7 linked regions of the Homo sapiens genome follow. The protein of the gene in region 6 purifies or fractionates together with the protein of the main gene of each other region. This does not show direct contact. Each region holds a gene or a part of one and is shown on either strand. Other genes may lie near its edges.

Region 1 (3,500 bases), 3.8 Mb from region 6:
TAATTTCTCTGTTATATGAAGAACCAGTAAAAGGACAGTTTTATAGCTCTTCTGAGTGGAACAGACCAGGCTCAAATCATGCGCTTGACTGACTCATTGCCATGGTTTACACAGGTCCTTCAACTGCCAGCTTTAAGTCAGATGCCTGCTCACAGGGACTCATCCAACAGTAGGTTGGCTTTAGAAAAGCGTTCTGTACCTCTGAGAAACAGGACCTCGATGAAGTCTTCACTGATGTCAATCAAGAATCCTTTCTGGGGGATTCACACTGTGTTCACTACACAAGGGCATAAGCACAGGCAGGAAACCAAGACTCAGGCCTGGGTACAAATCCTGACCTCCACCTGCCAGCTGTATGACTTCAAGTAAGTGATTTAACCATTCTCAAGTGTTCCCATTTGTAAAATGGGAATAATACCCCCATCTTACAAGGCTCCAAAGGGATTCAATGAGTGAACAGGGTCTCACTCTGTTGCCCAGGCTGGAGTGCAGTGGCACGATCATAATCATTGCTCACTATAGCCTCAAACTCCTGGGCTAAGTGATCCTCCTGTCTCAGCCTCCCAAGTGGCTAGGACTACAGGTGCACATGACCATACCTGGCCAATTTTTTAATTTTTGGAGAGACGGGGTCTCACTATATTGCCCAAGCTGGTCTTTAATTCCTGGGCTCAAGTGATCCTCCTGCCTTCACCTCCCAAAGTGTTGGGATTACAGTCATGAACCACCACGCCCAGCCCCAATATTTAACGAATGCTCGTCCCTTCTGTTACCCCGAGTGGGATTGGAAGGTTGGTGAAAGGCTGCCTTATATGGAGCAGGCCTCATGGGGGTATTACACACAGGGAGAAGAAAGAAGCTCATGGGAGGGAAAGTATGGAAACTGACAGTGGCAGCTTCTGCCTCTTCTATTCTTGAGAAAGTTACACAATGTGAGTGACAGAGGCTGTCCCAAGTACATAAAGGACTAATCTGTTTGCAAAGGGAGGAAATAGCATAGGATGAAGATTGTAAGTTGTTTGAAGCTTCTTTCCTAATTACCACTCATAATGAAAATTTAATTGCCAAGTTAAAAGCAAATTTCACTTTTTCTGTCATAGAATCTCTGCAGAAACTGGCACATTTTGTTTGAACAGGAAATCAAAGTTATTTTAATGCTTAAATGAGATCTAAGGAGCTGCAGATGTTTCACTGGGAATAACAAACTTCAAAATTCTGCTTTACTGGGTTGTAGCAATTCATGGCTACAGGGAGAAAGAAACGCTGTTTTAAGCTGAGTAAACCAAAGCAGTGGGAGGAATTCAAATCCAAGTACCCCAGTGTTAGGCACTCTGGGGACGAGGTGTAGGGAGAGGGTGGTACAGAGAGAAAATTTCTGGCATAGAGGCACTTACAATTGAGTAAGAGAGAGAAAAGCAGGAAATATCCCAAGACTAGGAAACTGAAATTTAAAAATTTTGGGGTCATGGAAGAATAGCGAGAAACAAAACACATACTGTTGCCTCAATTCTGACCCACATGTGCATCAGCTCAGTCAGAAAGACTGCTCACCTGTAAGGTGCTGGTGAGGAAGTTGTCTTGGGAGACAATGTCTACGAAGAAGTCAGCGGGGATCTCACCAAGCTGGTGGTACAGGATGGAGATGAGGTTGATGTAGAGGGTGTGGTGCTTCATCATGGCTGCTTCTGACCGGCACAGGAGGTTCAGGAGCCGCTTCCAATGCTCAAATGCCTCGTACACATTCCCCAGCAGGAAGCACACAAAAGCAAACTGGAGTTCACCTGAAAGGTGCAGAGAGGAGAAGTGATTCTGAGGGAGAGGAGGACCAGCTGACACTCTCCATCACTATTCACAAGGCCATGAATTCCACTGGACCTCAGCAACAGATGAGCTTTTATCCTTGTCACTCCTGCAGAGCCTGGCAGGAGATTTTGCACCTAACAGGTACTCAATAGATGTCTGCTGAACCGCTATGAATTCAAGCCATGGGAAACCAACCTGTGGCTTTGGATTTCTATAAAATCAGACTGCTAGAGAAGAGGTATTCCCAGTATTTGCCTGGCATTTTAAGTTTACAAAATGTGTTCATGGATATTATGCCAAGTGGATTTCAAACCTGGCTGCCCATCAGAATCACTGAGAGTCTGTTAAAAGTAAAGCTACCCAAGCTTCACCCTCAGAGGTTCTGGTGGAGGAGAGATGATGGGGCCTTCGTATCTGTAGCTCTAACAAGCTCCCCAGGTGATTCTAATGTGGATGGTCTGCTCCAGGGTCAGGAAATACTGCACTATACCATGTAACCCTCAGCCCAACTCCACAAGGCGATCAGGAAGATGGTATTTGCCTCATTTCATAGATAAGGTCAAGGGCTTGCCCAAGGCCACACATCTAATGCTTCACAATGTGGGCAACGGAAAGATAAAACAGATTCTCCATTGGGTGGGAACAGTTCTGGAACCTCCCACAAAAGAAAAATTCATGAGTACTTATTCCAGGGTCAGCCTGCCAGGCAGATTATTTTTGTTTGCTTAACCACAGGGCTCTGTGATTTAATCTCTATGAGCAGCTTGGTGGCTAAGAGCATGGGCTCTGGAGCCAAACTGCCTAGCTTCAAATCTTAGCTCTGCCACTTAGCAGCTGTGTGACCTTGGGCAAGTTACTCAATCTATTAAGGCCTCAATTTCCTTATTTGAGGGTTGTAGCAAAGATTACATGAATGGATATAGTACATGTATAGCATTTAGAATAAGACCTGGCACAAAGTAGCACTCAAAAAATATTATGTTCCCAATTTCTATCAGATGCCCATCTCAAACAGAGACCTGATGATCCAGACACCACTGTCCCTGGGCAAGTAACTGGGTCTCTGGTTACCACAGAATACTGCTCCTCATCACAGGCATTCTCTCTACTTCAAAGGTGGCTGGAAATTTAATGAGGTATACATACATGTGGGCCATAAAAAGAAGAGATGTACTCAACACCAAATACCTCTTTAAATGCATGGCGTTTGATCTGTGCCACCTCCAGAGACCTGGAAAAACTAGCTCCCTGTTCCTAAGCATACGGAACTAAGTTTGATTTGTGTGAATAGCTACCTGGTTTAGAAATTTTGGATTTCTGACCAATATTTTCAAATATAGTCAAATTTTCTTTGTATAATATAGGTTAATGATTTGCTTCTTCAGCTGGCTTTACTTGGTTTGTGAAACTAAATATTAGCCTATTATTTGCGTTTAGGACATTTATTAAATTTGTGCATTTCTGACTTTATCTAAAATTAAATTATATTTTTCAAAGAGGTGTGATGTAGATTCAAAATTATCCCTGGACAGGTGCGGTGGCAGGGATAGTCCTAGCCCTTTGAGAGGTCAGTGGAGGAGGATTGCTTGAGTTCAGGAGTTTGAGACAAGCTTGGGCAACACAGGGAGACCCTATCTCAACCAAAAATAATTAGCTGGGCGTGGTGGCACACACCTGAAGTCCCACCTACTTGGGAG
Region 2 (3,500 bases), on a different chromosome or scaffold from region 6:
AACTCTAGCTTAAAAAAATCTTTTCTTTTTGATGTAGAGAAATAAATACTATTAAGTAGCAAGGTAGGTAGCAATGGCTATTGCTCTCTTTTAGAATCTGGCTGATTACTAGCTCTCTGCCAATGTCAACCTGCTGTTACCCTTTGATAGATCGATTTTCTGAATAGATTAAGTCTGATAGACTATTTATTGTGAAAATTATGTCAATTCTTGTGCTGTTTTAAACGAGGCGTTATCTAATTTTTGAACGTTCTTTGCTGCTTTTGATGACCCACCATCAGGCTAATGGTCTGATTATTACATTTTACTTTAGGGAAGGAACAGATTCTCCTAAAAATCAGTGTCTTAGGTTAGTGGTCCTGTGAGATTTTCTAATGGCAAAAGTGGGCCAGGCACAGTCACTCATGCCTGTAATCCCAGCACTTTGAGAGGCCAAGGTGGGTGGATTGCTTGAGCCCAGGAGTTAGAGACTACTAGCCTGGGCAACATAGTATAGTACTTTGCTGGGAAAAAAAAAAAAAAAAAAAGCCAGGTATGGTGGTGAACTCCAAAACCTTGGATTTGGCAATAAAATGATGTCAAACCTTTCCCAGAACTTCACATGAAATTATTCTTTTTGTGTCTATTTTTAGAAATAAAGTGTTCACCTGACCAAGACCTCATATTCTTCAAGTTGCACTTTCCAAATACAAGATGGTAACTGTCTCTCAAATATTATTTACCTGCTCCTCAGTGATTTGCATGTACAGGATAATATAATAAATCAATTCAGGCAAGGCTTTCTTAACAGTGCTTTTGAATTTGCTATTTTCTAGTAGAGCATGGACAAATTCAAAAATGCTAAAGACGAGATTTTCAAAGCCCAGGACTTCACCTGCAGGAAATACAGAAGAGAAGAAATTAATGACAAGAAAGCAAAAGGAAAGCATATATGCAGAAAATGAACTACATAACCTTTGTAAATTACTGAATATTTAAAGTACTTGCTAATGATCATTCCTGAGGAATTGGGAGAGAGGGCTCAGAGGTCACAAAACGTAATTTTGAGGATATTAAATATTCTTTGGTTTTTCAAGTAAAAGAATCAGAAACACTGGATATATTTTCCAGTATGTCTATTGTTCTAATCTGAAATAATGAGAAATGTTAAAACAGAAACGAAAGATTCATGATCTGGGACCCCCAAATGAAACACAACAAAATGCCAGAAGTAGGCTAGATTAAATGGCCTTAAAAGTATCTCTTCCAATGCAGAAATTCTATGATTTTATGAGATTTATGCAACTACCTATGTGGAACAGATTAAAGATTGTCAATTCTCATTTCCCCACATCGAATACATCGAAAATAAACTGAATTAGAAAACACTTAATAGAGTGAAGCCTCTCAAGTTACTGTTTCCCGCCCCCATCTCTGGCTTCTTTTTCTTTTCCCACTAACTGGTATTTCTATAAAGATCAAATAAACTACATACCATCAGAATCCACAGGATCTTCTACTTCTTCTGTGTAATTTACTTCTGTCCTCACATAAGTATGATGAAGAGTAAAGAAATAGAATTTGGAGTCTGCTTTACATATAATCTACATGGAAATGTTACATATTCCAACACTAAAAGTAGACACCTTAAAAAAGCCTGTGTAAGAAGAGTGGAACCATATGAATGTGAAACCCAGTGCGAGATTCCTAACTATAGGTGGTAGTAGCTCCCTTAAACTTTCAAGAAAGGATATAAAGCTGCACTCTCGGTTAGGGTGTTCCAAACAATAGGCAGAATCTGCTGCATGGAGGACACCATGTGCTTTGGGAAGTTTTTCACTAGGGCTGTCACTGCCTAAGAAGTTAAGAGAAAAGGACCCAAGTTATGAGTGATATATAAGAAATAAATGATTTCAGACCAGCCCCTCAAACTCCAAATATTTCATTGGTAGTAAGTGTTTACCTTTAGGACCTCCATCTTAAACCCACTGTCAGATGTGGGGCCATCTGGTATCTGGAGGGCCTGAACAAAGGCCTCTGTGAACTGCTGTACCACGGGAAAGATCAGGACTTTGGCTGCACCCTGATAACAGAAACCAAAGTCAATACTGGACAAACCCCTAATCCATGGCTTCAACACATATATATCAAACACTGATATTTGAAAGGCACCTAAAGCTCTCTTCAGGCTCCAAGCCTGATCAGAAGAGAATAGCTATAAAGTCAATGAAGGTGTTACCTAAGATTTCATTTTTCCTTAACCAGCACTTGCAGTTCTTCATCAAAGCCCTCTTAAAAACTATTATGTAAGACCAACTTTCCTCCTAACTGCTTCTGAATCACAGGGATTGGTATTTTTCAGCTAGCTTTGCTTCACACAAGAGGGCCATAAAAGAGTAGGAAAGTTCTAAGGGATGACTACTATGAAAAGGATATAGGATAAGGTGTTTGAAGAAGTAAGACTCAAAAGAAGACTAAGCTTTTTACAAGTTGAAAATTCAATCAGGCCAGGTGTGGTGGCTCACACCTATAATCCTAGCACTTTGGGAGGCCAAGGTGGGAGGATCACTTGAGCCAAGGAGTTCAAGATGAGCCTGGGCAACATAGGGAGAGACCCCGTCTCTACAAATATAAATTCATTAGGCTGGGCATGGTGGCTCATGCCTGTAATCCCAGCACTTTGGGAGGCCGAGGTGGGTGGATCACGAGGTCAAGATATTGAGACCATCCTGGCCAACATGGTGAAACCCTGTCTCTACTGCAAAACAAAAATTAGCTGGGCATGATGGCGCGTGCCTGTAGTCCCAGCTACTCGGGAGGCTGAGGCAGAAGAATCACTTGAACCTGGGAGGCGGACGTTGCAGTGAGCTGAGATTGCACCACTGCACTCTAGCCTGGTGACAGAGCGAGACTCCATCTCTAAATAAATAAATAAATTCATTCGTTCACTCATTCATTCATTAGCCAGGAGTGGTAGCACATGCTGGTGATCTCACCTACTCGGGAGGCTGAGGTGAGAGGATTGCTTGAACCTGGGAGGTTGAGGCTGCAGTGAGCTATGATCATGCCACTGCATTCCAGCCTGGGTGACAGAGCAAGATCTTGTCTCAAAAAAAACCCAAATAAATAAAAAAAATACAAATATAGCTGAGTGTTGTGGTTCATGCTTATAACCCCAGCACTTTGGGAGGCTGAGGGGGGAAGACTGCTTGAGCCCAGAAGTTCAAGACCAGCCTGGGCAATACAGTGAGACCCTATCTCTACAAACATTTAAAAAAGAAAATCAGCCAAGTGTGGTGGTGCACACCACACCTGTAGTTCCTACTGGGGGTCAGGGGATCACTTAAGCCCAGGAGTTCAAGGCTGTAGTGAGCCATGATTGCACCACTGTAGTCCAGCCTGGGTGACAGAGCAAGACCCTGTCTGGAAAAATAACAACAATAATTTAATAAAAATGTTAAATCTATCTCTAATACTGGTTAGTGTGCTTTTTCGTGCTGCTATCATGAAATGACTCACTG
Region 3 (3,500 bases), on a different chromosome or scaffold from region 6:
TGACTAATTCCTCTAGCAGAAAGAAAGTGTTCTACAGCAGAGCCTACATGCCACCTGGAGGTCTTGTTAAAATGTAGATTCTGACCCAGGCAAATATGCATCCCTCACAAGCTCGCATTGGTGCCCTGTGGATTACTCCAGCAGCACTGCCCAAGAGAAATCCAATGCGAGCCACACAGGGCATTGAAGACGTTCTGGTACTTTTTTTTTCTTTTGAGACAGAATCTCGCTCTATCCCCCAGGCTAGAGTGTATGGCGTGATCTTGGCTCACTGCAATCTCCACCTCCTGGGTTCAAGCGATTCTCCTGCATCAGGCTCCCCAGCAACTGGGACTACAGCAGCCTGCCACCACGCCCGGCTAGTTTTTTTATTTTTAGTAAAGATGGGGTTTCACCATGTTGGCCAGGCTGGTCTTGAACTCCTGATCTCAGGTGATCTGCCCACCTCGGCCTCCCAAAATGCTGGGATTACAGGCATGAGCCACCATGCCCAGACAGGTACTATATTGATGTTAAGCATAAAATTAGGGTAATTTAACTGGCTCAGGAGGAGTATCTAGCTCATTTGTTTCAGTTTGGACAATGCTAAATGCTATTTTAGGGGTTCTATGCCCAACTGGAAACTGGCAAACAGGATGGATGTGGGGGGAAGGAATAAAGATAATAAAATGCGCAGTTTAATAAATGTAAGAACTGAACCAAGTAATCTTGCAGATACTGAAACCAGCCATCTGGTGAAACCTATACCTGTAACAAGGGCAATCTTTGGTGGAGGCAAAAGAACAGATGGTGTCAAGGAAGATGTTGCAGAGAAACCAACAAGATATTTCTAGCAAAGGACCCAGCAGTGTTCCCTGCTGCACTGCAGTGTGCGCTATCAACAGGTCATACTTCCTTCTTGAAAGCTGCCCTGGCTCCCTACATATCCACCCTACACTGGATCAGGCAAAGACAAGATGAAAACAAGAGGCTTGGAGTCTACAGACTTTTGGTGATGATAACGTGTTCACGCATGTTGACCACTCTAGTGGGGATGCTGACAATGGGGGGGCTGCGCATGTGCAGAGGCAGTGGGTACTCATGGGTTTATGTACCTCTGCACCTTCCGCCTGCTTCTGCTGTGAACCTAAAACTGCTCTAAAAAAGTTGATGAGACAGGGAGAGAGAGAGATGAAAGGTTCTGAGCAAGTCCATCATTTCATGTTTTTTGAAAAGGATTAAGACACACAAGAGAAAGTTCCATTCATTTCAATTTCAAAATGTCCAACTCCCAACAATCTTCTAGCATCTGGGGTCTTTTGTTGCTTAAAGTTCATTAATATCCAAGTAGAAAGTTCCACCCATTGACTAAGCAAACCACTCTTACTGGATGAAGGGAATTCTTGGCATCCTGTGAGAACCCTCAGGGTTCCCCATAAAGCCAGTGAGAAACCCCACAGTGCTTGAGAGCCCACACAGCAAGCAGCCAACTCAGGCATTCTTTTGCCCAACGAAGTCAGGCCTCAAGGATCCTTTCTTCCTGAGGGGGAGGGGAGGTGCAAGGGGAAGGGAAGGGCTGGGGTTCCACTGCTAGGCCTGTGACTCACAGATGGTGACTCAGCTCCGACTGGCAGTTCTCTGTGAGTTTAGCACCGCTGAGTGATTCTGCCTGAAGCTCCTTTGCCAACCTCACCCACTCTGTCCATCGCGCCATGTGCTGGAGGTAACACAGAGCTACAAAGGCACTGGATTTTCTTCTTAAAGGAAGGAGTTTCACAATTCTCTAATTTTTCATAAGAAAACTCCTCCTATAGGGATTGACAGCCAGGTAAAAATGAGAGCCTCCAGACTATTCCAAAGCCTACAGGTAAAAACTGTCCTTGATCCTTGCTGAAGACTGATTTCTAGTCACAGAGATAAAGGTGCTATATTCACACCTGCTATCCCTCCCCTTATCAAGAGATACCATCCTATCACACTGTATCCTGCATTTGGTCACAGCAAGCTGTCAGCCAACAACTAGTGATGGGCCCCTTTAGGGACAAGGTCTTGTGGTATCACCTTACTTCCTTACTTCACTGACTTAGGAGCCAACTTATGTGGTTTTAAGCCAAGGAGCTGGCAGGATCAGGCGGGGTGGCTCACACCTATAATGCCGGCACTTTGGGAGGCAGAGGCGGGCAGATCACCTGAGTGAGGTCAGGAGTTCGAGACCAGCCTGACCAATATGGTGAAACCCCCGTCTCTCCCAAAAATGCAAAAATTAGCCAGGTGTGGTGGTGCACACCTGTAGTCCCAGCTACTTGGGAGGCTGAGACAGAAGAATTGCTTGAACCTGGGAGGCAGAGGTTGCAGTAAGCTGAAATCATGCCACTGCACTCCAGCCTGGGTGACAGAGCAAGACTCCATCTCAAAAAAAAAAAAAAAAAAAAAAAGAAAAAGAAAAAGAAAAAAATAAGCCGAGAAACAGCAAGACACTGGCTCCATGCCTAAAAATTCCCCAACCCTCACAGTCAGGAATCACAACCTACTAGCATGTGCAGACAGAAAGAAAAGCTTTAACAGATTTTTTTTTTCCTAAGGCTCCAGCATTTGTAGAAAATTTTTAAAATGAAGCACGGTGGAAGGAACCATGGAAACCAAGGAGGTGGCACATACCTTTTGAGGTGAAGAGATCAACCTCAACAGTGGGATTCCCGCGAGAGTCAAAGATCTCCCTGGCATGGATCTTGAGAATAGACATGGTGAACTTCTGTAGAAGAAACACACAGTTCATGTTTTCCATAAGCCATAATGCTGCATTTCCTCACTCATTCAAGGAATCACTTCCGAGGTTCGTGGACTAGAGAGAATCAGCACTGGACTAAATACTGGATGTAGGAAAGCTGGCTAGGGTGGGGGGAAAAGCCTGCTGGAAAGCAGTGAGAATTCTCCTAATTAAGTAGTTAGGGCCTAGCTGCGGAAGGCCTTAACCTTTTTATGCCTAGTATTCCATTACTGGAACGCTAAGGGCGTGGGAGTTACTTTTATCCGACTGCTCAAGTCATTGCCAAGGTCTGATTTTTCACAAAAAAAGATTTGCAACCTCTGGCATAAATGGGTTAAACCCTAGCAATTGAGGTCTTGTTCTGTAAGAAAAAAGAAAAAAAAAAAAAGAGAGAGAAAAAGCCCACAAACGTGTGTGCCCAGGGAGAATCAAATCCAAATAGAAAGATGAATGTGTTGCTCGACGCAGAGTGGCCCAGGAGCTGTCTGAAACTGGCTATTGTCATGAGTGAACAATGAGGGCTGGCATGGGAATGGAAAGGAACCAAGAACAGACATGAAGGTCACAAGCAAAACCACCTAGGGCCAAAAAGAGGGTGGCGGGACCAGGGGAAAACCTTGCTTGTAGCAGAATTAAAACAAAATAGTGAATGAAGTTTGGACATAATTCTTCAGATTAATATTCACTTAGTAGGTATTTGATCAGAAATTCTGAGTTTGGAAGTCAGGAACAATGAAGTCCTTGGACCGTGTGA
Region 4 (3,500 bases), on a different chromosome or scaffold from region 6:
AAACACCCCCTCCTCCGCCCGCAAACACCCCCTCCTCCGCCCGCAAACACGACCCCTGATCAGGCAGCAAGCTCAGCAAGCTCAGCCGATGGCTCCTGCCCGCCCGAGGCTTGGGCCAGAGGGGCCGGCACTCAACTGTCTTCACCCCCATACAGGAAAAAACATGCATCTGATTCCACCAATGGAGCAGCAAGCAAACCGGATGGTGGCTGGCGCTTGGTGGGGCCCAGGGGTGGTTTCTGGGTCCCCCCTTGTCACCCTCACTCAACTGTGTCCAAAACCTGAGCCTCACAGGCCCCCAACCACGCGCCATGGCGGAGGCCAACACAGCGGGACCTAAACACCCCAAGCTGCTATGTGGGGGCCGGACACCAGTGCAGATGCCTTTTCTCTTGTGAGCTTTTGCATCCAGGTGAAAACGCCTCAGGAAGGCCGAAGCCACTGGATGCAGCCACACCTGCATCTGTCACTCCACTTTCTTTGTGCACAAGCAGCCAGGACAGCTCTGGGGACTGGGGGGCGGCGTCTGTGGAGGACAGCCCTGCACATTTTTACTATCTGAACTTTTAGTATGTGCATGAACAGGCACTATCCCATTCGAAGAACTTTTCAAAATGTAAACTCTACCTTAGCCCACCCTGCATTTCCTTCTCTAGGCAGGCATTTCTTCTACAGATCCACCTGCACAGGGACACAAGGACAAGGTGGAAGGACCCTCCTGGACGCTGTCTATGCAGCATCTGCCAGTGGGGACAGGCGGGATCCTGTTGCTCAGTCCCGCCTGTTCAACAGGGCATTAAGAGGCAGAGGCCAGGCCGGGCGCGGTGGCTCACACCTGTCACCCTAGCACTTTGGGAGGCCAAGGCGGGCGGATTACGAGGTCAGGAGTTTGAGACCAGCCTGGCCAATATGGTGAAACCCCATCTCTACTAAAAATACAAAAAAAAAAAAAAATTAGGCTGGGTGTGGTGGCTCACGCCTGTAATCCCAGTACTTTGGGAGGCCGAGGCGGGTGGATCACAAGGTCAGGAGATAGAGACCATCCTGGCTAACACGGTGAAACCCCGTCTCTACTAAAAATACAAAAAAATAGCTGGGAGTGGCAGCGTGTGCCTGTAGTCCCAGCTACTTGGGAGCCTGAGGCAGGAGAATTGCTTGAACCCAGGAGGCAAAGGTTGCAGCGGGCCAAGATCACGTCACTGCACTCCAGCCTGGGTAACAGAGCAGGACTATGTCTCAAAACAAACAAACAAGCAGACGCCAGGCATCAGGCCTGTGAGTGCCACAGGCCGCAGAGAAGCGTCTTTGGCAGCAGGTCCAGGTGAGCAGCCGAGGGCACAAGCCACGCCGCTTTCCAAGGCATCAAGCAGGTATAAAATCACTGCTGGGATATGCACTGCATTTGGTCTCATGCAAACAAGATCTGTCCAACATTTGCTAAAAGTTAAGGGCTTTTTTTTTTTGAGACGGAGTCTCACTCTGTTACCTAGGCTAGAGTGCAGTGGTGCAATCTTGGCTCACTGCAACCTCCACCTCCCAGGGTCAAGCAATTCTCCTGTCTCAGCCTCCTTAGTAGCTGGGATTACAGGTGCCTGCCACTGCACCCGGCTAATTTTTGTACTTTTAGTAGTGACGAGGTTTCGCCCTGTTGGCCAGGCTGGTCTCGAACTCCTGACCTCAGGTGATCCACCTGCCTCGGCCTCCCAAAGTGTTGGGATTACAGGCGTGAGCCACCGTGCCTGGCCAAGGTAAGGACATTTTTTTTTTTTTTGAGACGGAGTCTCGCTCTGTCGCCCAGGCTGGAGTGCAGTGGTGCGATCTCAGCTCACTGCAAGCTCCGCCTCCAGGGTTCACACCATTCTCCTGCCTCAGCTTCCCGAGTAGCTGGGACTACAGGCGCCCACCACTGCACCTGGCTAATTTTTGTACTTTTAGTAGAGACAGGGTTTTGCCGGGTTGGCCAGGCTGGTCTCGAATTCCTGACCTCAGGTAATCCACCTGCCTCGGCCTCCCAAAGTGCTGGGATTACAGGCGTGAGCCACCGCGCCCGGCCAAGGTAAGGACATTTTGAAAAGCTTGTCTTCTGTCCAAGTTCAGCTGACAGTTACTGGTAATAATGTGTGATTCAGGGGTGATGGTCTCGGACATGGGCCCCAGGAGGCCCAGTGCCCCAAGCACTTTCAAGAAAGCTGACCAAGGGGGTCGGCGGAGGACCTGCACCCAGTCACATAACCAAGGCGCCAGCAGATATGCACCTGGCCACATAACCACGAGGGTCCACAGAGGATCTGAACCCACCACATACCCAGCGGGGTCAGAGTGCGGTCCTTCTCCAGGGAGCCATCCACGTGGTACTGGGAATGCCTGATGAGGAAGATGTGCCGCGTGGCCTTGGCTTTGTAGTGGTCCAGCTTGGACGCCAGCTCTTCTTCCCCAGATTCCACGTTCCTCTTCCGCACGTTGATCAGAGACAGTGGTTCTCGCCTGATGTTGAAATACAAGATATGTCCTTGAGACCTCTGTTCCCAAGTTTGAGTTTTTCTGACAAGATGTTATTTCCAAATTGTCAGACTATTTGGGAAGAGCATGGAGAGAAGACAAGGCCCTTGGCACAGCCCTGGGGAGGCCTCTCTGAGCATACCGCCACTCTCCCTCCCACAAAGCTAGTGCCAGGTCTGTTCTGAGTGATGCGCTGGAGAGCAAAACAGACAAGCAAAGCCCTGTGCATCTTCTTCTCTAATGAGAGGCAGACAGTGAACAGCAGGAGACAGACTACCCCAAACGCAACTGTGGTTACGGAGAACGCCAGGCTAGGAAAGAGGACAGCGGCTATCGGGGCGCAGGCGGAAAGTGTCCACGGGGCCAAGATGGGCCTCCCTGACCATGATGCTTCAGCAGAGCCTAGAACTGCAATGCCCAACAGCAGCCACTAGCTATGAGGATGTTTCAATTCAAAATTTAAGCAAAATTAAATAAAATTAAAACATCATGTCCTCAGTCATACTAAGCACATTTTAGACCCTCAGGCCGGGTGCAGTGGCTCACACGTGTAATCCCAGCATTTGGGAGGCTGAGGTGGCCAGATCAACTGAGGTCAAGAGTTCGACACTAGCCTGGCCAACATGGTGAAATTGCACCTCTACTCAAAATACAAAAATTAGCCGGGCTTGGTGGCACACGCCTGTGATCCCAGCTACTTGGGAGGCTGAGGCAGGAGAATCGCTTGAACCTGGGAGGCGGAGGTTGCAGAGAGCCGAGATCGTGCCACTGCACTCCAGTCTGGGCGACAGAGTGAGACTCCGCCTCAGAAAATAAATAAATAAACAAACACTCAGTGAGGAAGAAAACATTCCCATTATGAAGGTCTGTTCCAGAGCTGCTGGAATCTGAAAAAGAGTGGATCCCAGCACTTTGGGAGGCCGAGGTGGGCAGATCACTGGAGCCCAGGAGTCCAAGACTAGCCTGGGCAACACAGGGGGACCCCGTCTCTACAAAAACAT
Region 5 (3,500 bases), on a different chromosome or scaffold from region 6:
AGCAGCTCCTTGAGAGGACCCTGCTGACTCTCCTTTCAGTCCTATTTTTAGAGCAGTGGGCCTTCTGTTCAGTGAAATCTCACAGAGGAACCAGCCTGGGCTCAGGATGTGCAAAAGCCCCATACGAGGCTCACAGAAGGGACTGCATTTGCTTGGGGTAACCCAATAGGACAGTGTTACTGGGAATCAGACTCAGGCCTCTGGGGACACCGTGAAGAATCTGGTCCCAGGCCTACTGCAGGGCACAACACATGGGGGAAGCCTCCAAAAGTCACTAGCTATGTGAACATACATGATTCTACAGGCCTATGGACTTGACATGGTTATGCCAAGTAAAACCTGCTATAAAACAATATTGTGAAGAAGCCTGTTTTTTTTTGTTTGTTTGTTTTTTGTTTTGAGATAAGCTGGCATGTAGTGGTGTGGTGATCACAGCTTACTGAAGCCTCCACCTCCTGGGCTCAAGTGATTCTCCCACCTCAGCCTCCCGAGTAGCTGGAACTACAGGTGCATGCCACCATGCCCGGCTATTTTTAAAGTGCTTCTGTAGAGGTCTCGCTTTGTTGCCCAGGCTGATCTCAAACTCCTGGCCTCAAGCAATCCTCTCACCTTGGCCTCCAAAAGTGCTGGGATTACAGGCATGAACCTCCAAGCCTGGCCCAGAAGCCTGATATGTTAAAAAACTAAGATAGGCTGCTGCCTCTGAGATGACCTCTGAGGCACTGGGGGAGATGACCCAGGGCTGTCGGGAGCACTGGCCAAACCAACAGAGAGAGACTGCAGGCCTCCAAGCTGACTGGTGAGAGAGGGAAAGTGATGTTAGAAAGATGATCTGGTTTCAGTGTGTGTGATCACTGCAGGGAGAAGAAAGAAATGGCAGAAACATACAGATGGAGGCCAGGCAAAAGGGAAGGAAATGGAAACACAGAACAGAGATGGCTACAAGCAATACCGAGAAGGATGACCTGTCCTCACATGGACGCAGGGAATTAAGAAGGTGGACGGGCTCAAGGAGCCACTGAGGTTGAGCCCAGGGAACTGGCAGGATGGTCACAGGACACACAGAGCAGGGGGACTGACAGGGGAGCTCCGGGAGAGTGGCAGGTGTGGAGGAGGAGATAGGACAGCTGGACCTGAGCCATGCTGGGGGAGATGTTTCAGAGGCAGCTGAATCAGGAGTTAACTGCTGCCAGGGTGGAGAATTGGATGAGGGTTCCCAAAGCAACAATGACAGGGATGTGGGGACAGAAGAGATCTCTAAATAAAAGAACAGGGGGAAATTCTTTTGTTGTAAAAGCCAACTCCATCTACTCACCATGCAGGTATGGTGAGACAAGTCAGTCATCTCAGATCAACCCACCCAGCATCCAGGTCCTATCCACCAATCTGAGAACAGGGCACAGGGAGGCTGCCAGGGCCCTGTCACATGGGGTGGCACCTCCACATGCCCCCGAACAGGTTGGTTTTCCTGTGACTTGAGTTGTTTTTTTTTAATTGCGTCAAACCTGCTCTCATGGGAAGAAAGGTCAGAATGATGAACTTAGCATAGCATTTTGTTTCACTTTTAAGAAATGTGGGAAGAGGTGACTGTCAACTCCTATCAGGCCTCTGCCTGATAGCTCAAAGGCACCTGCAGGCCCAGTCCCGTGTAACTGCACCCACACCACTGAGAATAATCATCCAAAACATAAGTCACACTGTCAAAGCCTCAGAAAACTTTTTGAATTCTGCAGGAAAACAAGTACTTAAAGTTCAATAACAGGTTGGGTACAGAGGCTCACACCTGTAATCCCAGAACTTTGGGAAGCCAAGGTGGGAGTATCACCTGAGGCCAGGAGCTTGAGACCAGCCTGGGCAACATAACAAGGCCCCATTCCTATAAAAAAATATATATATATATAATATCAGCTAGGCACAATGGCACGCATCTTTAGTCCCAGCTACTCAGAAGGCTGAGGCGGGAGGACCACTTGAGCCTAGGAGGTGGAGGCTACAGTGAACTATGATCATGCCATTGCATTACAGCCTGGGTAACAGAGTGAGACCCTGTCTTTAAAAAAAAAAAAAAAATAGGCCAGGCGCAGTGGCTCACACCTGTAATCGCAACACTTTGGAAGGCTGAGGTGGATCACTTGAGGCCAGGGGTTCAAGACTAGCCTAAGCAACAAAGCAAGCCTCTATCTCTATAAAAATAATTTAAAAATTAGCCAGGTGTAGTGGCACATGCCTATAGGTCCTAGCTATTTGGGAGGCTGAGGCAGAAGGATTGCTGGAGCCCAGGAGGTTGAGGCTGCAGTGAGCTGTGATCGTGCCACTGCACTCCAGCCTGGGCAAGAGAGAGAGAGCTTGTCTCCAATAAATTGAATGAGTGGATGGATGGATGGGTGGATGGATGGATGGATGGATGGATGGATGGATGCATGCATGGATGGATGGATGGATGGATGGATGCCTGCCACCATGGATGGATGCATGCATGGATGGATGGATAGATGGATGGATGGATGGATGGATGGATGGATGGATGGATGGATGCATGCATGCATGGATGGATGGATGGATGCGTGCATGCATGGATGGATGGATGGATGGACAGACAAATAGATAGATAAAGTTCAGTAACAAAACACATAAGTTTTCAAGAGACTGAAGTGGCCCAGTGAGGGGACAGGCAGGAAGGGCCCTGGCAGCAATGCTGGTGGATGCTCCCCATTGCCAGACCCCAGAGCACACAGGACGTCCACATGCAGCCTCGGGTCAGCCTACCTGCTTATGTGCAGGATGCTTTCAATGACAGGGAGACTCAGACAGTGGGGAAACAACCAGCAATAGAGAAGAGGGCAAAGGCAGAGGCCTGGGGTGTCTAGAGCGGCTCTGCTTGAGCTCCAGGAACAACTCCAGAGTCTTCCCCACTTCATGGCCTTCGTCACTGCTTGGTCTCCTCACATTCCTGACCCATCTTCAAGCCAATGCTAGTGCCCGGCAGGCATCATGGGCATCTCAGGGAACCCCACCTGGGTGTGGGTCTGCCTTGCTAGATGAGACATGCCTCACCTGAAGCTGGCAGGCAGCCACCAGTGTCTCTTGTACATTGCTCAGGCTGAGCTCCAGCTCGGAGGTGTATATGAAATGTAGGATTTGGCACATAGCATTGTAGGACACACCGTGGATCAGGACCTCTTCCTGTTCCATCTCCTTCAATCCCCCAGCAAACATTCCTCTGCAAAGTGAAGACACAAGAAAATGGAGTTATACCAACAGGGACTTAAGCCCATGTTGCCAAGAGTGACAGCATTCAGAGAAGAACCTGGCGCTGGTGGCAGGGCCCTGGTAGTGGGCTGACCCACTCTGTGCTCTGAGTGAACTGTGTGCATGCATGAGCCATCCCACAAAAGGATCCTGACGAAGTCTGGGCAGCCATCCTGGAAATTGTCCTGTTTCCCTTTTCATGGGCCCAAGGAGTCCCATGTGAGCTTCGGGAGGTGAGGCCACAAGCAGCT
Region 6 (3,500 bases):
TCAAGACCATCCTGGCCAACATGGTGAAACCCCATATCTACTAAAACTACAAAAATTAGCTGGGCGTGGTGGCAGCCACCTGTAATCCCAGCTGCTCGGGAGGCTGAGGCAGGAAAATCGCTTGAACCCAGGAGGAGGAGGTTGCAGTGAGCCGAGATCATGCCGCTGCACTCCATCCTGGGTGACAGAGCGAGACTCTTGTCTCAAAAAACAAACAAAAAAACTGCCACCTAGAGATGGTGGTGGCCAACAGCTTAGTAAGAATTTCTCTTGCATTTTTCTATGCAAACACATTCAAATTTTCATTTTTTAAAAAAGATGATAGAATCATACTGTATGAATTTAATTGCCTAATTAAGCTTGTGTATCATCGTTTCTCTTGTCATTAAATGCTGTACAGCTTTCTTTTAAATGGCTATCTGTGGTAGTGTTCCTTGAAGGAAATACCTTAAAATTTTTTGTTTTTAAACTTTTATAATTGTGGGAATGTAATACAGTGAATGCATAGGACACAAATGTTCAGCTTAAGGAATTATTATAAAGTGAACACCCTGTAACTGCCACTTAGATCACGACATCAAATATGGCCAGCAGCCAGGCGCACCTCCCCTACCCCCCACTGCCCCTTCCCAGTCACAGCCCCATTCTTCCAGCTGAAGGTAACTTCTGTCTTGACTTTATGAAAGTTATTTTCTTGCTTTCCTTTAGATTACCTACCCGTCTTTGCATTCCTAATGCTGTAGTTTAGTTGAGCTTATTTTGAACTTTTCACAAACGGAATCATCAACTATGCATTATTTTGTATCTGGCTTTCATTCACTATTTTGTTTTTAATATTCATCTATGTCGTTAGTAGCTATAGTTCATTCATTTTTTGTTGCTGTATAATCATCCATTTATTGAATGTACTACAATTTGATTCTGCCTTTGGCAGCCACTTTGATTGTTTATAATCCAGATTTCAAATGCTGCATCATGAACATGTGGGTTGTGATTTGTGTAGATGTGCATGTACTTCTCTAAGGAATCCAAGCCTAGGAGGGACGTTGCTGGGTCAGAGGATGTTTGTATCTTCAACTGTACCAGATAAGGCCAAATTGTATTCTCAAATGCTTGGATCTGTTTTCAGTGTACTTGTTCTACTCCTAATTAACACTACTTGATATTGTCAAACTTTAATTGTAGCCATTCTGATGGATGTGGTAGTATCTCATTGCGGTTTTAATTTGCATTATTTTGCATTTTCCTTATTGTTAGTGAGATTAAATACCCTTTTATATGTTTTGGCTACTTCAGTATCCTCTTGTGCAGTGCCTAATTCACATCTTTTATTTTTCTTCTGAGTTGCCTTTTGCCCATTGATTTATATTTGTTCCCCCTCTCTCCCCGCCCCCAAGAAGGAGTCTGGCTCTGTCACCCAGGCTGGAGTACAGTGGCACAATCTTGGCTCACTAACCTCTGCCTCCTTCGTTCAAGTGATTCTCCTGCCTCAGCCTCCCAAGTAGCTGGGACTGCAGGTGTGCGCCACCACGCCCAGCTAATTTTTGTATTTTTAGTAGAGACAGGGTTTCACCATGTTGACCAGGCTTGTCTTGAACCCCTGACCTCAAGTGATCCATCCGCCTTGGCCTCCCAAAGTACTGGGATTACAGGTGCAAGCCACCATGCCCGGCCTGATTTATAAATGTAGTCTAAATACAAGTTCTTTATTGGTTATGTAAGTTGCAGATATCTTTTTCAGCTCTGTAGGTAATAATGTTTTTTGATGAATAGGAGGTCTTAATTTTAATGTAGTTTAATTGATTTGTTTTCTCCTTTGTAAGAATCAATATTTTTCATGTCCTGTGTAAATCTCGTATTGGGATAAAAGATACATATATATTTTTTAGGTTTTGGCTAATAGTTTTCCGTTGGCAGCATGTGAACCTTTTTATGCCATTTTTACTTTCATCAAGGGTGTATGTATGATTTTCTCATACTCTTGTCAGAACTGGAGATTTGGGGTAACTTTGCCAGTGTAATAGACTTTCTTAATTCATTAAGGAGTATTTTATCTTAGTTTGCCCATGAGAGAAGAGAGATTAAATTTGTTTTATTATACCAAGAACATGGCAGTCAATAAGCATAACTAAAAATATTATTTAGCTTTTGATTCTGAAGACCATGTATGGCCAGTAAGGAAAAGAGGTAAAGATGTAGAAAACTGTTTTCTTTTTTTTCTTTCTTTTTTTTTTTTTTTTTTTTTTTTGAGATGGAGTCTTGCTCTGTCGCCAGGCTGGAGTGCAGTGGCGTAATCTCAGCTCACTGCATCCTCCACCTCCTGGGTTCAAGTGATTCCCCTGCCTTAGCCTCCCGAGTAGCTGGTACTACAGGCGCGTGCCACCACACCTGGCTAATTTTTTGTATTTTAGTAGAAACAGGGTTTCACCGTGTTGGCCAGGATGGTCTCAATCTCCTGACCTCGTGATCCACCTGCCTCAGCCTCCCAAAGTGCTGGGATTACAGGTGTGAGTGAGCCACTGCACCTGGCCTCTTTTTTATTAATTTAAGATACATGATTTTGGCTAAAACTAATGAAAATAAATTGATGAAACTTCAATGTAGTGGATCAAGAGACTCATGAAATTGATGAGTTAGATTGTTGTGGGCACCTGTTTTAAATTTATGGTGCCTTTTTAGCAGAATCATGACTTTATCAACTCTTTTTCACATACTTTTATTCAAAGAAGACATTCTCCTCCTCTGCCCCAACTTATCTTCTTCTTGTCTCCAACTGCCAGTATTCTCATCCACACTCTTTGTAGTTTTGAGGTGTGAGATAACTCCCAAGTTCTTCTTGGGAATGGGTAGAGTTTAATTCTGAGTCTACATGTCGTGAGTCTATTGGAAGAAGCTTTTCTTAGGAGGTGAAATTTGGGATGGAGTTCTCCTCTACACTCTAGCCCTGTAGCCACAATCTTTGGTTTAGATCTTTGGCATTTTTTGTTGGACATCTTTCATAGTGTCTACCTCTTCTTCCTGCCTCTAGGCTTCCCGCGGTTGCCAGATGAAATTCCGAAAACTCAAATCATTCCTGTAGTTAATATTCTTCAGTGACTCCGGAACAATCAAATTCTTGATCCCTCCACATGGGTCTTACCATCTGCCCTCGTGCCCTCTCTAGCTTCCTGCATATTGAGTTCCCCACAGCCCTAGTTTCCCTGAGTTTGGAATATTCTTTCACATTTGCTCATCCCACTATCTAGAAACTTCCTACAATCTCTCTACTGCCAACCTGTCTGTCTAGTTGCTAATTTATTTTAAAACCCAGCTTAAGCAACACATCCTTTTGGATGTGTTACTTCCCTGATCGTTATTCACCTCCATGCCGTCTTTCGCTCAACTCATTGAAGTTAGGTGCCCCTCTTCTGGGCTGCCACGGCTCTCCATGTTCACCTATGTACTGTACTTTGTATTGTAATCAGTTTAATTGACCCCCCTACTTATTTGAGCTCCTTGAG
Region 7 (3,500 bases), on a different chromosome or scaffold from region 6:
TCTTGGTATAATTATGTACTGCATATAAAACACTACAGCACAGAGTTTGCTAGCTCCCTTGTTAGAAATTCAATTGTAAACTTTCAGCGCATGAGAAAGTTTACTGCTTTTATGGATAACCGCAATAAAATCCACAGAGATTAGTGAACATTCCAAGACATGCACTTCAATAACTCAAAAAGCTGAAAGTGAAAATATGTGCATGCATCACTGGTGTAAGTCGGTCAGTTTGGCACCTGATTTGCTATTTATATATGAGATGTGTCTTGCCAACCATCTCTGTCCCAATTTCCTTGTGGTTTAGGAGCTTTAGGCCCACCTGCCAGCTTTGCCATTATAATCTAAAGTAGTTGATACATAAGTATATACAAAGTTTAACACTGAAATTTTCTAAAACCTGTAAATGAGAATCATTCAAGCAGCCAGGAATTTTCATAAACAAAAATCTAAGTTCCCAACTTAAAAAAAAAAGCGCCACAAACCTCACCTTACTTTATCTAAAATAAATAGGTTTTAGCTTTTTTTTTTTTTTTCTTTTTGAGACGGAGTCTTGCTCTGTTGCCCAGGCTAGAGAGTGCAGTGGCGCGATCTTGGCTCAATGCAACCTCTGCCTCCTGGGTTCAAGCAATTCTCCTGCCTCAGCCTCCTGAGTAACTGGGATTACAGGTGCCCATCACCATGCCCGGCTAAGTTTTTACTTTTAGTAGAGACGGGGTTTCACCACGTTGGCCAGGCTGGTCTCAAACTCCTGCATGATCCACCCGCCTCAGCCTCCCAAAGTGTTGGGATTATAGGTGTGAGCCACTGCGCTCGGCTGGAAAACATCTTAATTACCATCTGCAAACCTGAACTGGGCAGTGGCTCATGCCTGTAATCCTAGCACTTTGGGAGGCCAAGGTTTGAGGCCAGGAGTTTGAGACCAGCCTGGGCAACAAAGTGAGACCTAGTCTACAAAAACTAAAAATATATATATATATAAAATATATATATAACATTTGATAATATATATATGATATATGTATCATATATACGATACATATATCATACATATATCATATATAATATATATCATACATATATGTATGATATATATATCATGTATATGTATGATATGAGATATATATGATATATATGAGATATGTATGATATATACATATGTATGATATATACATATGATATGTGTGATATATACATATCAGATATATATGATATATATCTCAGCCAACCATGACAGCACCTGCCTACAGTCCCAGCTATTCGGGATGTTAAGGCAGAAGAATCACTGGAACTCAGGATTTTGAGGCTGTGGTGAGCTGATTATGATTGTGCCACTGTCCTCCAGCCTGGGTGATAGAGTAAGACCTTATCACAACAACAACAAAAAAGATACCTAAACCTGAAATTCTCAGAATAACATGTTACCAATTGAGAGTAATTTCAGACTGAATTAAAGGCATTAAGCATAATTTTAGAACCTAAGTGCACATTGATTTTAAAAAGTAACTAAAAGCTGGGTGTGGTGGCTCATGCCTGTAATCCCAGCACTTTGGGAGGCCAAGGCGGACAGATCACGAGGTCAAGAGATCGAGACCATCCTGGCCAACATGGTGAAACCCCGTCTCTACTAAAAATACAAAAAAAAATTAGGTGGGCATGGTGGCATGCGCCTGTAGTCCCAGCTACTCGGGAGGCTGATGCAGCAGAATTGCTTGAACCTGGGAGGTGGCGGTTGCAGTAAGCTGAGATCACACCACTGCACTCCAGCCTGGTGACAGAGCAAGACTCCATCTCAAAGAAAAAAAAGAAACAAACACTAAAACAAGTAGTTCCCAAACTTTAGTGGGCACCATAATCAAAAGTGCTCATTAAAACAGACTGCTAGGCCTCTTCCAGCATTTCTGATATTGGTGGGTCTGGAGTGACATCTGAGAATCTGTATTTCTTCTTTTTTTTTTTTTTTTGAGATGGAGTCTTGCTCTGTCGCCCAGGCTGGAGTACAGTGGTGCCATCTCTACTCACTGCAGGCTCCACCTCCCAGGTTCATGCCATGCTCCTGCCTCAGCCTCCCGAGTAGCTGGGACTACAGGCATCTGCCACCACGCCCAGCTAATTTTTTGTTTTTTTTAGTAGAGACGGGATTTCACCATGTTAGCCAGGATGGTCTCAACCTCCTGACCTCGTGATCCTCCTGCCTTGGCCTCCCAAAGTGCTGGGATTACAGGCGTGAGCCACCGCGCCTGGCCTCCAAGAATCTGTATTTCTTATTTATTTTTAGTTTTTTAAAAGATGGAGTGTCACTCTGTCAACCAGGCTGGAGTGCCATGATGTGATCACAGCTCACTGCAGCCTTCAACTCCTGGGCTCAAGTGATCCTCCCACCTCAGCCTCCTGCGTAGCTGGGACTACAGGTGTGAGCCACCATACCTGGCTGAGAACTGTCATTCTAACAAGTTCTCAGGTGATGTTGATACTATTTTGGGACCATACTTTGAGAACTAGTGAAATAGACATTCCAACAAAGATTAATCCAGTCCGTACTACACTATCCAATGCTTAAAGCTTGATGTGCAATTCCTTTTCTAGAATATATACTATACAAATTTAGGTTCATTATACTATACACTATATACACAAACTGGTTAATACAGTTGGATGGGTTCTTTAGATACATACTTCACATAGAGTGCAAAGACTGGGGGAACAGATCAACCAACAACTTCCCCTACCATAAGATAAAGCAGACTTCCTAGTTTAAAGCCAAAATTCAAACTGCCTTTGTGACCAAGGGTGGTGGTTATTGTCTTGCTTGAATAATTGACATTCAAAGTTCCTAACACAGTTGGAATTTCTGCGTTCCTTATGCTGCAGTCTACTTAGCTTCTTCCGTCCCTGCTATTTTTGGTTTCCCCTTTTATTCTTAGCCACATTCTAATTTCTAGAATAAGTATTTTCTTAGGTTTCTATTTAAGAACTCAAACATATTCTTCCATTGAAAATCACCTAATAAGCTGACAGAGAAACCCGTTAATCTGGTACATAAACATCTAGTTTCTGCTTATTTTCAATGACTTGAAACTAAATATCCAGTTCCATTTTTGGTCATCTCTTGCTATCATAGTTCTTCCAATAAATTTGTTATAATTACCACCAACTGGTCCTTACTGTACTTAAAAGCTGAAATGTCTTTCCACTGATTTCTACTTAGGACTTACTCCACCTTTAATATGACATATGACTTTTACCTAATGGATGTATACTGTCCCTCTAGCAAATTAAAATTTTCTATTAAGTACTTATAAATAGTCATTGCTTATTAATTACTTCTAGAATTTTGTGGGGAAATGTATTTAATTAAGTTTGCCAGAAAATACCTTTTGGAAAAATAATTATGATTTCAGGTTTACTTCTATATATAGAACAGTCTACCACAATTCTTCAAAAAAAAAAAAAAAAGGGTAGAAATATGATTTTAAACACCTTTAACATCTTTTAGTATCTCA

What was found.
Region 1: the proteins of ASXL1 (region 6) and AAR2 purify together in Homo sapiens (affinity purification with mass spectrometry, with the first as the bait; one large-scale study listed by BioGRID). This does not show direct contact.
Region 2: the proteins of ASXL1 (region 6) and IPO9 purify together in Homo sapiens (affinity purification with mass spectrometry, with the first as the bait; one large-scale study listed by BioGRID). This does not show direct contact.
Region 3: the proteins of ASXL1 (region 6) and ENO1 purify together in Homo sapiens (affinity purification with western blotting; 2 studies listed by BioGRID, with this or other methods). This does not show direct contact.
Region 4: the proteins of ASXL1 (region 6) and PGAM5 purify together in Homo sapiens (affinity purification with mass spectrometry; one large-scale study listed by BioGRID and IntAct). This does not show direct contact.
Region 5: the proteins of ASXL1 (region 6) and KLHL22 purify together in Homo sapiens (co-immunoprecipitation; one large-scale study listed by IntAct). This does not show direct contact.
Region 7: the proteins of ASXL1 (region 6) and CCT8 purify together in Homo sapiens (affinity purification with mass spectrometry, with the first as the bait; 2 studies listed by BioGRID). This does not show direct contact.

What each region holds. Positions count from the first base shown.
Region 1 is NC_000020.11:36,242,978-36,246,477, reverse strand, and holds part of AAR2 (protein AAR2 homolog), read right to left. Parts: intron 1,782-3,500; coding exon 1,552-1,781; intron 1-1,551. UniProt on the Homo sapiens protein: Component of the U5 snRNP complex that is required for spliceosome assembly and for pre-mRNA splicing.
Region 2 is NC_000001.11:201,853,157-201,856,656, reverse strand, and holds part of IPO9 (importin-9), read right to left. Parts: intron 2,063-3,500; coding exon 1,943-2,062; intron 1,835-1,942; coding exon 1,734-1,834; intron 1,534-1,733; coding exon 1,475-1,533; intron 875-1,474; coding exon 723-874; intron 1-722. UniProt on the Homo sapiens protein: Nuclear transport receptor that mediates nuclear import of proteins, such as histones, proteasome and actin. Serves as receptor for nuclear localization signals (NLS) in cargo substrates.
Region 3 is NC_000001.11:8,872,187-8,875,686, forward strand, and holds part of ENO1 (alpha-enolase), read right to left. Parts: intron 2,732-3,500; 5' UTR 2,723-2,731; coding exon 2,638-2,722; intron 1-2,637. UniProt on the Homo sapiens protein: Glycolytic enzyme the catalyzes the conversion of 2-phosphoglycerate to phosphoenolpyruvate. In addition to glycolysis, involved in various processes such as growth control, hypoxia tolerance and allergic responses.
Region 4 is NC_000012.12:132,713,842-132,717,341, reverse strand, and holds part of PGAM5 (serine/threonine-protein phosphatase PGAM5, mitochondrial), read right to left. Parts: intron 2,485-3,500; coding exon 2,306-2,484; intron 1-2,305. UniProt on the Homo sapiens protein: Mitochondrial serine/threonine phosphatase that dephosphorylates various substrates and thus plays a role in different biological processes including cellular senescence or mitophagy. Modulates cellular senescence by regulating mitochondrial dynamics.
Region 5 is NC_000022.11:20,468,296-20,471,795, forward strand, and holds part of KLHL22 (kelch-like protein 22), read right to left. Parts: intron 3,221-3,500; coding exon 3,055-3,220; intron 1-3,054. UniProt on the Homo sapiens protein: Substrate-specific adapter of a BCR (BTB-CUL3-RBX1) E3 ubiquitin ligase complex required for chromosome alignment and localization of PLK1 at kinetochores.
Region 6 is NC_000020.11:32,424,331-32,427,830, forward strand, and holds part of ASXL1 (polycomb group protein ASXL1), read left to right. Parts: intron 1-3,500.
Region 7 is NC_000021.9:29,056,649-29,060,148, forward strand, and holds part of CCT8 (T-complex protein 1 subunit theta), read right to left. Parts: intron 1-3,500. UniProt on the Homo sapiens protein: Component of the chaperonin-containing T-complex (TRiC), a molecular chaperone complex that assists the folding of actin, tubulin and other proteins upon ATP hydrolysis.